Regions from separate parts of the Homo sapiens genome. Here regions 1 and 2 are each reported to be linked to region 3. Evidence: microRNA targets listed by miRTarBase, many of them from high-throughput screens and not tested one by one. Region 3 holds a microRNA gene; each other region holds the end of a gene's coding sequence. Distances are from middle to middle.

Evidence for each region. The annotated mature microRNA hsa-miR-3941 reads UUACACACAACUGAGGAUCAUA and lies in region 3 at 3,002-3,023, shown strand. An mRNA with a match to its seed (bases 2 to 7 or 8) in the 3' UTR can be bound and repressed. Matches are read on the target gene's strand: a 7mer-m8 pairs with bases 2 to 8, a 7mer-A1 pairs with bases 2 to 7 and ends in A, and an 8mer does both.
Region 1: the mRNA of BMP10 is a reported target of hsa-miR-3941. Seed matches in the 3' UTR shown: 7mer-m8 at 1,195-1,201.
Region 2: the mRNA of UNC5B is a reported target of hsa-miR-3941. Seed matches in the 3' UTR shown: 7mer-m8 at 1,364-1,370.

What each region holds. Positions count from the first base shown.
Region 1 is chr2:68,862,357-68,866,419 of GRCh38, forward strand. It overlaps BMP10 (bone morphogenetic protein 10), which reads right to left. Exons shown (of 2, transcript NM_014482.3): 2 at 1-4,063. The coding sequence ends at 3,275. Among named protein-coding and RNA genes, the nearest start is that of BMP10, 7.0 kb to the right of the region's middle.
Region 2 is chr10:71,298,694-71,302,756 of GRCh38, forward strand. It overlaps UNC5B (unc-5 netrin receptor B), which reads left to right. Exons shown (of 17, transcript NM_170744.5): 17 at 419-4,063. The coding sequence ends at 584. Among named protein-coding and RNA genes, the nearest start is that of SLC29A3, 19 kb to the right of the region's middle.
Region 3 is chr10:122,414,023-122,418,090 of GRCh38, forward strand. It overlaps MIR3941 (microRNA 3941), which reads left to right and starts at 2,943; the gene lies at 2,943-3,045. PLEKHA1 (pleckstrin homology domain containing A1) reads left to right here. Exons shown (of 12, transcript NM_001001974.4): 7 at 1,837-1,980; 8 at 3,878-3,946.

The DNA.
Region 1 (4,063 bases), not on the chromosome of region 3:
ATGTGAGCCATACTCTGAAGCCCAGAAGACTCTCTATCCAAAAGGGAATCACAGACATAAAAATAAAATATTTGGTATTCTACAATATTTTACAAAAATAAATATATCAATCAATAAATAGTGGGAAGCCTAGAAACTCTTACATGAATATTTTGGCTGTGGGCTGCCCAAGTCCCTCTGCTATAATTCTCCTCAAGAGTTGTTTAGCTATATCAACTTCGGTGATGATAATTCTGCAATAAAAGGGGGAAAAAAACTGGCATGGGACCCAGAAGAAGGTCTATGACCAGAGAAACATTAGTAAGATTCTACCTTTTTAAGGATCTGACAATATTCTGGCTTCCTGTCAATGCAGGAGTTGAAAGTGACACCGGTGTGCTGCCGGGGTTCCGGTGGGAGCTGGGAGAACTCCTCTACGGGCTGTGTCTTTTCACTTTCTGACAAAAAGCCAAAAAAATACAACTAGCAACATTTGAATAACAATATGTTGCTCTCTGCACTCCCTTTCCACAGGGAAGCAGAAAATCATAGAAATGCAGGTTTACATCTGGATGGGCAGAAAGAAACAACTGGGCTATGCAGCCTGATCGCCAACAGCCTATATTTTCATATCTCTTTAACAGAAGAGTGACTATAAGTGCTCGAGACAAGATTTCTCCAGAAGCCCGGAGCCAGCAGCGCACACAGTGGAAAGCAGGGCTGGCACATCCTTAACATTCTAGTATCAGGGTGCTAATGTCAGCGGTGTGCTAATGTCAGTGGGATACTAAATGTCAGCGGTGTGCCAGCACCAGTGCACAGCTCCCAAGAGCTGACTTAGGTTTTAGAAGTTTTGCAAGCCAGTTGACATCACCTTGGCAGCTCAAGATAGACCATGTAGGAGCGTTTGCAGCATTGAAATCCACAAATCAGGGCTTTTTCTCCCCCTGGATTGCTGGTTGTAAGGGTTTTACCAGCACACCACTGTCATATGTATTAGACATAAAGAAAATTTGCTTAATTTTTATCTAACCAGGACTATCCTGGTCAGCTGAGGTTTTACTGTGTATGTATTACAGTGTCCTTTAGAAAGGATAAGAAGTACCTTGGAGTATGTGAGTATACATTGTGTACCATGGAGTATGAAGGATGCACCACGTTCCACTGAGGGTATTAAGCGTGGTTATTCAAAGCCAGCTATACATCACACACACATACACACATCATGTTATATGGAGGCTGTTCCACAAATAGTGATTCTGAGTTGCATGGCTTTCTCAAAGCATCAATCACTGTATACCCACTGACGGTCAAAACACCACTCTTCCATGAGCAATGAATTCCCCAGGATTCACCCAGCAGACAACAGATCTAGCGAGCTGAGGTTCAAATTGGGCCTTCTTCAAAATAGTTTTCCTTGCCTCTATTGTCTAGTGCAGTTTGAGTTTATAACCTTAAGAGATTTGTAAAAGGGGACTGATTGTTTTCCAGGGTAAAAAAAAGAAAAAAGTGTCAGACTTCTTAAGGAAGCATTCCTTAAGATGAGTAGGGGTGAATGGGGGATGACGTACTGGAAACCACATTCCTGGTTCTAACAGGAACCATCCATGTTCCCTGCCTGGAGATGCTGGAACAGTTTGGAAACTGCTCTGCTCTGCTCTGGTTCCTCCTGCACAAAGCCCAGAATATGCTTGCCAGGTAGAGGGAAATGGTTAGGGGTTAAGACTGGAGGCTGCCACCTGCCAGGAAAACCCACCGGACCCTTCCTGTGCAGAACACTTCCTCACCACTTTCAGTCCTGGCCAGTTGCAAAATGGGAAGATGGTAAGATGAGAAGATGGGAAAGTTACTGGGTTTCTACCATGAAACAATCATGATTTCAAAATTCAGGCTTGGCTTTTGAGTCATTTGCTTGTGTGTCTATTCATAAATTCGTTTATTTAAATCCATTCATTTGGACTCTGGTTTTCTTTTTCTTATACTTACTTATTCTGGTTTTCTTTTCTCTTATATCTAAGTATTCTTCATGAACAAAACATTTGATAAAGGATATTATTAAAATAAAATCAAATTAAATATCACGGGAAGATTTAGAAATTAGAACACTAACTCCTTTCACCCTGAGAGCAAAGGCACTTAGGTGTCCCTTTCCAGTTCACAGCATGCATCATGAAGGCCAGGGAAGAGCAGGGACACAGGGATGGGAGGAAGGTGAGAGGCACTAGGGCCAAGAAGAAAGAGGGAAGGAAGAAGATGGAGCAGAGGAAAGCAGGGGTGCTGAGACAAGGGAACAGTGTTAACAGGTGAAGAAAGATATTAACATCCTTTCTTCCAACAGACAGACCCCTTCTGATTTTCCTCCTCTTAGTCTTTGATACTTCTATTTTGTCCAAAAGATTTAATTCTTTAAACAGAACCACTTTTGGTTTTACAGACACATCTGAGGATAGCCTCTGAGGATAACATCAATATCCTCTTCCCTTTCTCCCTTTCTCCCCTTCAAGTACCCTCCCAACCCCTCTACTCTCTGCAGCAGCAATGGCCAGTACTCATGGCCTTGCTTTCCTATTGTCTCAGGAACAGATTTCATGCTGGTTTCTTCTGTTTTCCTGCCTTGACCAGGAGTTGCCCTCTGGAGCACATTGGTCCTCCATGGGTTCATTTTTTCCTGTTGTACCTCTAAGACCTCTTAAGTCCATTTGGTTTCTGTATCAATTAACCCTTCCCTTCAAGCATCCTTTGCCAGGCCCCTCCTCTCTGAGCAACTACAGAAACTCAACTGACAAAAGCTACACTTACATTTCCAGAGTATTTAGGAAGGGTAATACTTCCTAGGATGATTAAAACCCTGATGTCAATTATCTTGACTTAAATCCTACTCAGAGAAGAGGTAACAGAGAACATACCATTGGCCTTTAATATGCATACATTTGAGTGAGTCATGCATGTAGATGAGTATAACCTGCCTGCATAGAACCAAAAGATTTTTGTAAGTTCATGTATGTACAAATATACATACACAAGTGTGTGTCTTTTGACACTGTATTTTGCCTAGGGGTTGTTTTCAAATCAACAGGGAGGTGGCATTGCCAGGAAATGGCAAGTCCAAAGAGAAAACAGATTGAAAGGGACTTAACTGGAGAGGAAAATATGCATTTCCTACAACAAACTGACCTGTCCATTTCCTGAAGGCAGCAAGCCTCTATTACTGTACACCCTTATTAAATAATCTCATTAAATAGGAACACCAAATATACACATTTACAGTTATTAAATAAGCCATAGGACTCTTCTTCTATCTACAGCCACATTCGGAGACGGCCATGCCTTCGTATTTAAACTTGTAGGTGACGACGCCTTTGTCTAAATAGAGGATGGAGATGGGCTCTAGCTTTGTGGGCACACAGCAGGCTTTGGAAGCTTTCTGGGAATTCTTGAGGTGGACCAAGGCCTGGATAATTGCATGCTTTGTGGGTGTGAGATGCTCTGCCAGGGGGTAGTTACAAACACCACGGCATTCATAGGCTTCGTATCCAGGCGGAGCGATGATCCAGGAGTCCCACCCAATCTCCTTGAAGTCGATGTAGAGCGGGGTCCTCTTACAGTAGTTTCCTTTGGCGTTCCTTCTGATTCGGGCAGTGGAGTCATAGATGATGTTTGATCTCATCTGCAACAAAGCCTCTTCCCCAGGTCCACTGGAAAAGCTATCCAGGCCCAAGTTGTCCAGCTCTGGAAGTTGCTCATGGGAAATCATTTCATTCAGTTCCTCCTTCCTCTCCTTGTCACTGCTTTGGTCATCAGAAAACACGATGAGCAAAGGGTTATGCTTATTCTGGGCACTGGTATCTATTTCTAGCCGTCCACTGCTGGCATCCTCAGCTTCATCGTGTTTGCTCTCAATGTGGACCTCCAGCTGGTGGGTGGATGAGCCTGACTTTTGCCAACGTCTGATGGCATCTGTGACATCAAAAGTCTCCCACTCACTGTTGGTTCCATATATCTCCCCAGACACCAAGACCAGCATGTTTCTTTCTCCCTCATTATCCCCTTTGCTCTCCAGCACTTCAAAAATGGTAATTTTCCG
Region 2 (4,063 bases), 51 Mb from region 3:
CTCCTATCAGGGGAGTTCATGGGAGCAGGAGGGAACACGGGTGGGAGGAATGACCACATGCTAGACGTGGTCATTCTCTCTTGGGGCCAGTGTCTTTCAATGATAATAATGATGATGATGAACAAGATGGTTACATGCTAGAGACAACGCTAGACCCTTACTTTATATGATCTTGGATCTTGCTGAGCGGTAACTGGCATTGTTCCCATTTTAGAGACAAGGAGACTGAGATTCTGAGCCATAGGTTCTGAATTGCCGAGAGCCACACAGACTGCAGCACAGTAGCTGCAATTCAGACCCAGGACAGTGGGACACCAAAGCTCACAGCCTTCCCACTTCCCCTTGTGCCCCTTCACCTCCAGGCTCCGGGGAGGGGCTAAGTGCTTGGGAACCTCAGTGCCCTCCTTCCCTCTGCCAGGTACCTGAATTACTTTGCCACCAAAGCGAGCCCCACGGGTGTGATCCTGGACCTCTGGGAAGCTCTGCAGCAGGACGATGGGGACCTCAACAGCCTGGCGAGTGCCTTGGAGGAGATGGGCAAGAGTGAGATGCTGGTGGCTGTGGCCACCGACGGGGACTGCTGAGCCTCCTGGGACAGCGGGCTGGCAGGGACTGGCAGGAGGCAGGTGCAGGGAGGCCTGGGGCAGCCTCCTGATGGGGATGTTTGGCCTCTGCTTCCTCCCAGTTCACAGCCAGAGTTGCCTCTCCTCCTCCTCTTCCCCAACCCCCAGACCATGACCAGCCTTAGAAAATCCATGTACTCTGTTGTTAGAGGGCCCAGAGTTCCTTCTCCACCCCCGCTCTCTCTCTCTTGGCCTGAGATCTCTGTGCAGGAACCAAGATGGGGCTGAAGCCTCTGGAGGCAGTTGGTTGGGGGCGGGCAGGCAGGAGGCCCTCCCTCCACCCCCCCACCCTCAGCCCGGCAACTTCTGGGTTCCATGGGTTTTAGTTCCGTTCTCGTTTTCTTCCTCCGTTATTGATTTCTCCTTTCTCCCTAAGCCCCCTTCTGCTTCCACGCCCTTTTCCTCTTTGAAGAGTCAAGTACAATTCAGACAAACTGCTTTCTCCTGTCCAAAAGCAAAAAGGCAAAGGAAAGAAAGAAAGCTTCAGACCGCTAGTAAGGCTCAAAGAAGAAGAAAAACACCAAAACCACAAGGGAAAAGAAAAACCCAGTTTCTTAGGAAACGCAAACGATTTATTATCCAGATTATTTGGATAAGTCCTTTTTAAGAAAAAAAAAGAAAATGAAAAACAACACAAAAAAAATAGAAAACTCTTTTCTTGAGTGTGGATGAGAATGGGCACGCTCACACTTCTGGCCAGGAGTGAATGTGCCTGTGTGTGTGTGTGTGTGTGTGTGTGTGTGTGTACATGTACGCGTGTGCATTGAGGAGAGAGAGACTGAACAGAGAGTACTTTGCTGCTAACGAATCCATCTTGGACTAAATTCTGACAAGGCCTCAGTTTCCCCAGTTGTGCAGGGAGTAGGTCAGACAGGGTTTTCACTGTCTAGATTTAGCTGGTTAGATTTTCCTCTAAAATCTTAAGCAGATGCTGAATCCATAAAGCCAAGGAGTGCTGAGGGCTGGAGTGGGTGGGCCCTCCCTCCCACAGCCCCAGGGAGATACATCTGGACTCCTGGGAATCTGGATTAAGAAAGTTGGGATGAAAGAGGAGGACTGCTCAGGCCAGTTGTGAGCCAGGGAGAATGTTCCAGTCTGGTTTTGGTCTGGTGGCTCCTAGAAAGGGATGTGGCCCAGAAGTGGGACTCAAACAGAGAGATGAAGTAGGGGAGGGGAGTCCTCCACGGGCATCTCTCTCCTGGCGGCTGGATAGCTTTACCCTAGGGTGGGGCCAGCCCTGACACCCTCATCCCCTCCTCAGCCCAGCAGCCTCTAGAGCAGCGTGGTGCTCTCTTGATGGCCAGGAATCCAGAATCTGCCCTTCCCCAACCTTGGTTTCTCCTTCTGTAAAGCAGAGTGATGGCTGAGAAGTCCTCTCTAGCTGCAGAAGCCTGAGCTTCCCGGTGTCAGTCAGCTCTGCAACGTGGGAGCCTTGGAGGCGGGTGGCCTGGCTGTGCTTCATATGCCCAGGAGTGGAGAAGGAGGCTGAGAAGCTGGTTTCCCAGCTCTGATCTCCACAGGCACCTCCTATAACCCTCCTCTCACCCACCCCGCTACGGTCTGAGAGATCTGAAATAACCTTTCCCAGTGGGCAGGGTTGCCAGGGTTGAGGGGACAGCACATACCACCCCCACCCAACCTGTTCGAGGGGCCCTGCATGGCACGGGATGAGTCCCTGCCCTGTGCAGCTGCCTGGCAGTGGCTGGGACAAGGATCTTGCAGCCAGCACAGAGGCCTCTTCAAAGGCCTCTCCCTCTTGGCACTCCAGGCAAGGCAGGTGCCCGCTTCCCCAACACCTCCAGGCAGTGACCCTAGGGCATGCCCCAGCAGGTCTCCGAGCAGCCACTGGGACCCGTCTCAGCACATCCTGGCCTTTGAAAGTCTGATATCCTGAGAGGAGGGCAGGTTTTAGGGCCGCAGTTCCAGCCAGCGTCCCCAGCCTGGCTTCCCTGCCATGGACTCAGTAGCTCGTGGGGCTTCTTACCACCCACCAGCCCCGCTGGGGTGCGGCCTGGCTGTGGGCAAAGGAGGACTTGCCTGGAGATTTGAGAGAAGATTCCTTCTACCAGGGCTGCTGAGGGGCCAGGCCTGCATCAGGGGCTAGGCTCTGGCTGGGCCCGGAGGCTGAGACTAAGGCTTTCGACCCTGGTGCCTCCATGTGGATGCTGCCTCAGACAAAGGCAGTGAGCCTTCCCTGCCAAAGTGCCCATCCCATGGGCTCGGCCTCACTGGTCACTGTTAGCCCATGAACACGTGTGGGCCTCGGTCACGTGGCTTTGAGGGCAGTCTGACCAGGCTAGACCACACGTGCCGTGACAGGGGGTGCCATTCCCCTCGCAGGCTCTAATGTGCCCACATGTAGCCTGGCAGTCCAAAGACCAAGAATCAACTTGCAAATCTGCCATTAAACTGCTGTGCGACTTCAGGCATATCACTGCCTTCTCTGGGCTTCAGTGTCCTTTTCATACCTAGAAGTCTGCGGTCTGAGGCTCTTTGGGTTCAGACACACTGTTCTAGGCTTCTGTAGGGGACCTTGTGATCTGCCGTGCCCCTCCTCCCTGTTCTTTTCTGTCCTCCCCACCCCACCCTCAGAAGCTGCTTGCTCTGCCCCCAGGACAGGAGCTTGACGGATGAAGTGCAGCCAGCCACCCAGGTGCCATTTCCAGTCTGACTTCCAGAAATGTGCACCATGTCCTAGAGCACAGACCCATTGGCTGGAGCCTCCTGGGAGGGTTCAAACCATCAGCTCTATGAGAAATGCCCAGAAAGGCTTTGCCGACTCCATCCGTCTGTGGAGGCTGCCTGCCTCCGGGGTGGGATGGGTGGTTTCTCCTCCAATTCAGACCCAAGAGGTAGCCCCCGAGGGCATGTACCTGGTGGGAAGCAGCTCAGGTACCCTTGGGGGTTGCAGGGCCCTTACGCAGGTATTTCTCTCTCTCTCCTCTCTGGGGTGCGTGTGTGCGTGCGCGTGTGCGTGCCTATGCTTTTCTCTGTGGGCACATCAGGATGCCCCTCGGAGAGCATGTGCACGTGTCCCCACCTGAGCGAGCGTGTGTGTGTGCTCCTCTGCGTCCCAGGTTTGGACGTCTAGGGTTTGGTGTGCCTGTCTTCTGCCCTCCCTGAGCCCACAGGGTCAGTCAATGTATCTTCTACGTGCCTCTCCCTCTGCCTTCTCTCACAGTGCCCCCGGCTCCAGAGCTCAGGGGTAGGGGTTCTCCTGAGGGTGCAGGGGATCCTTCTCATCTCCTGGACCCTCCAGGGCACTCTGGTCCCTATTCCCCAGCTCCTAGGCAGCTGAGCCGGGTCCCTTAGGGGAGGTGACCAGGAGCTTTGGTGCAGGGAGCTCTTGGTGGGGCAAAGGGCTGGACCCCTGCCAGGTCTGTGGACATGGTTATATGCCCGGGAGAGGGGGGTGCAGGGCCCCAGGGATGGCCCCCAAT
Region 3 (4,068 bases):
AGGGTATGTTAATGAACAGAAATTCCCTGCTGTCATAGAGCATACATTTTCCACCAAAGTTGGATAAAAAAATAAGCTAGGATTGTGTGTTTACTTTTTCCAAAAGTAATGATTTTAAACTGTTAACCTTCTGGTTACTATGTACCTAGATTAAGCTTCTTTCACTGGTATTATGACCTATGTTGACATAAGGGGTAAGACTATTTTCCTGTAGTTGTGTTAAGACACTGTATTAGTTTGTATCTGTGGCTGTTTTAATTTTGTCTAGAGTTAAGATTTTGTTGCATTGTAATTTTGGTATAGATATTTCAGTAGTTTCTAGGATTTTATGGAGGGTATAATTTTATTGCATCATTTATTTTGTAGTATAGTTTTAAAAATTATAAAATAATATATGTCTATCATAAAAGGCAAAAATTGGTAAATTGGACCTCATCAAAATAAAAAATACTTGCTCTATGAAAGACCTTCTTAAGAGGATGAAAAGAAAAGCTACAAACTGGGAGAAAATATTTGCAAACCACATGTCCAACAAAGGACTTTTATCTAGAACATAGAAAGAACTCAGAACCCAACAGTAAAAAGCCCAAGAAATCCAATTAGAAAATTCATGAACAGATATTTCATCAAAAGATAAAAGATAAACAGATGGTAAGTAAGCACATGAAAAGATGTTCACCATCATTAGCTAGCAGGGAAAAAATACAAATTAAGAGCACAATAAAAGATCACTGCACACCTCTCAGAATGGCTGAAATAAAAGTGACGACACAAATGCTGCCAAGGTTGAGGAGAAACATAATCTCTCAGGTGTTGCTGGTGGGAATGAAAATTAGCCACTCTGAAAAACAGTTTAGTGTTTATGTTTTGTTTTTTTTTTAATAATAAAAGTAAGCTTGTGATTACTGTACAACCCAGCATTTGCAGGACTAGGTGTTTATCGTAGAGAAAGGGAAAATTACATTCACATAAAAACTTGTGCATGAATGTTGATAGCAGCTTTTTTCCTAATAGCTAAAAGTGGGAAACAACTCAAATGTCCTTTAATGGGTGAACAGTTAAACAACTGGTCATCCATCCATACCATGGAAATATAGCAATAAAAAGGAATGAACTCTAGATACAAGGAACAGTCTGGACGAATCTCTAGAGAATTATGCTGAGTGAAAAAAGATAATCTCAAAAGATAACCTTCTGTATGCTTCCATTTACATTACATTTTCAAAATGTCAAAATTATAGTCTTGGAGAACAGATTAGTGGCTGCCAGGGGATTTAGGGGTAGGAACTCTAAAGTTCACAAAGGAGCCTTGGGGTGATGACCAATTCTGGGTCTTAAATGTGGTAGTAGTTACACAGATCTACACATGTGATAAAACTGCATAGAACTGTATAGACACACATAGATGAATGTATGTAAAACTGGTGGAATCCGAATAAAGTTTGTGGGTTGTGCCAATGTCCATTTCTTGTTTTTTGATAATGTTACGCCGTTTCCCTTTGAGGGGAAACTAGTGAAAGGGTACATAGGACCTGTTGTACTTTTTTTGGGCAGCTTCTGGTGAATCCTTATAATTATTTCAAAATAAAAAGTTAACTCCTTCCCCAAAAAAGAGCACTGGTGGCAGGACTTGTGCAAAACAAGAGGAATGGAAATTTGTGCTTTAATCAGTGACAGGAAAATTAAGAGTAAGTATCTCAGATTAATTAGAAAACTCTTCAAAAATCTGTTTCTGACTAATCTAAGGTGGATTTTAAGATTTTCTACTGGGATAATATGAAATAAAAGTATGCTAAACAAGCAAGAAAATAATTTATTTATTTTGCTTCATTTTAGAAAGAAGAAGTAAATGAATGTGGTGAAAGTATTGACAGAAATAATCTGAAACGGTCACAAAGCCATCTTCCTTACTTTACTCCTAAACCACCTCAAGATAGTGCGGTTATCAAAGCTGGATATTGTGTAAAACAAGGAGCAGTGGTGAGTAGCTTAACAAAATACATGAAATAATGAAAAAGGATTACGTTCTAGCAAACTCAAATTAACATGGAAATTGTTTGCTTTATTTTATGAAAGACCCAAAGTGAGAGACCGGCATGCTGAGGAGAGTCAGGAGATAAAATAGGGGATATTCTCTGTTTATAATTCAATGCTGTTATTTGCTTGGTTTGCAGGGGGCCAGGAAAGTTAATGCCCATTACCACTGACTTTCAGTTTAAATGAGCTTTCCTAACAGTTTAATGTTTTAGAAAGTGTTTCTATTCATCTTTACTCATACTCAGGAGTGGGTCAGGGAAAGAGAGCTGTTGTGGGGAGATGGCAGGCCAGCGGCAGGAGAAGGAGTGGTGCCTAGGAGGTCTCTTCCTTGTTTAGGCATTGGCCTGACCTCCGTGGTAAGCTCTCTGACCTTGGGCTACTTACTTAACCTCTCAGGCCCTCAGTTTCTGTCTTAAGGAATATCATATAAAACCTACCATCTAGGGTTTTGTTTTGTTTTGTTTTTGTTTTTTAAGAGATGTAAATAAGAAAGGTGTGTTTCCCTTTGCACAGCACCTGGTACTTAGTAAAAGCTGTTATGGGTTAGCCCAGGTATTCCCATATAATCAGTTCCATGATGAATTTTTTGCAAGAGCAAGTAAATTTACCAATATTTCTAAGGTTGCAACATACCTTAGTATCTAAGCCATTCTTTCTATGTGAACTAAATCTTTAGAATTTCATGAGAAAATTAACTTTAAAGTTTGAAAATGTTTTTTAAGTCTGTGAGTAAAGAAATACTTAAAATTATTTTGGTGGTTCTGTTTGACTTCTCATCACTTTTTGGCAACTCTTAATTTTTTTAGGGCAGCCAGGGGAATGTCCTTTCACCTGTTTGACCTGCTTTAGGCTGAGGAAAATGATGGTGAGGGCAGGGGTTTCTTACTGTACAATGTCTGCAGGTAGAGTCAGAATTCTCATCAGGCTGTGATGCTCAGTTGTGTGTAGATTGAAAGCCCTAATTTTACACACAACTGAGGATCATAGCCTGATGGTTCCTTTTTGTTTTACTCTTAAGTCCAAAATACCAGTCAGAGATATTTAAGTGCTTCTGCAAAAACTGTTATTTTATTGACAAAAAATATTTGTACAAAATAGGTTTACTTTATTAAATATTTAGTGCTTTACTACTATGTATAAAGTACTTGTGGAAGAATTCATATGTTTTTACAGATGGAGAAACTTGATGTGGTTTAATAACATTTCCTGTGTTTGCTCTTTACATGGGGTTGGCGGGGGCGAGGAGTAGGAGGAAGGGGAAGTGCTTTTAAAAAAAAAAAAAGTTTCAACATTAAAAATATGAAATAGGCCAGGCATGGTGGCTCACGCCTGTAATCCCAGCATTTTGGGAGGCCAAGGTGGGCGGATCACCTGAGGTCAGGAGTTTGAGACCAGCCTGACTAACATGGTGAAACCCTGTCTCTACTAAAAATACAAAAATTAGCTGGGCATAGTGATGGGAGCCTGTAATCCCAGCTACTCGAGAGGCTGATGCAGGAGAATTGCTTGAACCCAGAAGGCAGAGGCAGTGAGCCGAGATCGCGCCATTGCACTCCAGCCTGGGTGACAGAGCAAGACTCTGTCTCAAAAAAAAAAAAAAAAAACACATAAAATCATACAATAAAAGATGAAAGCCAGGCACCAGAAATTGAATTAGGAATTCAAAGCCTGGGTAGCTAGAGAGGGATGAGGTTTAATTTATCGCATCTCTAAGGGAAGTAATGAGATTTTTCACTGCTTGGCATGTCTGATTGTGGGTTCATATCAGGGTAATTAAGTGGTGACTAACATTTGACATTCTTAGAAACACAAGTCTTATGTCTGTGTTCATCTCTGGTAGATGAAAAACTGGAAGAGAAGATATTTTCAATTGGATGAAAACACAATAGGCTACTTCAAATCTGAACTGGTATGTTGTTACGTCATAAATGTTGCTATAAGAATGTTTGAAAAGTGTTGCAATGTAGTGATTATATATAATTTCTTGTACTGTTCTGTAGTTTCAGAATAAGTCTAGTTTTTAGAGGTAAA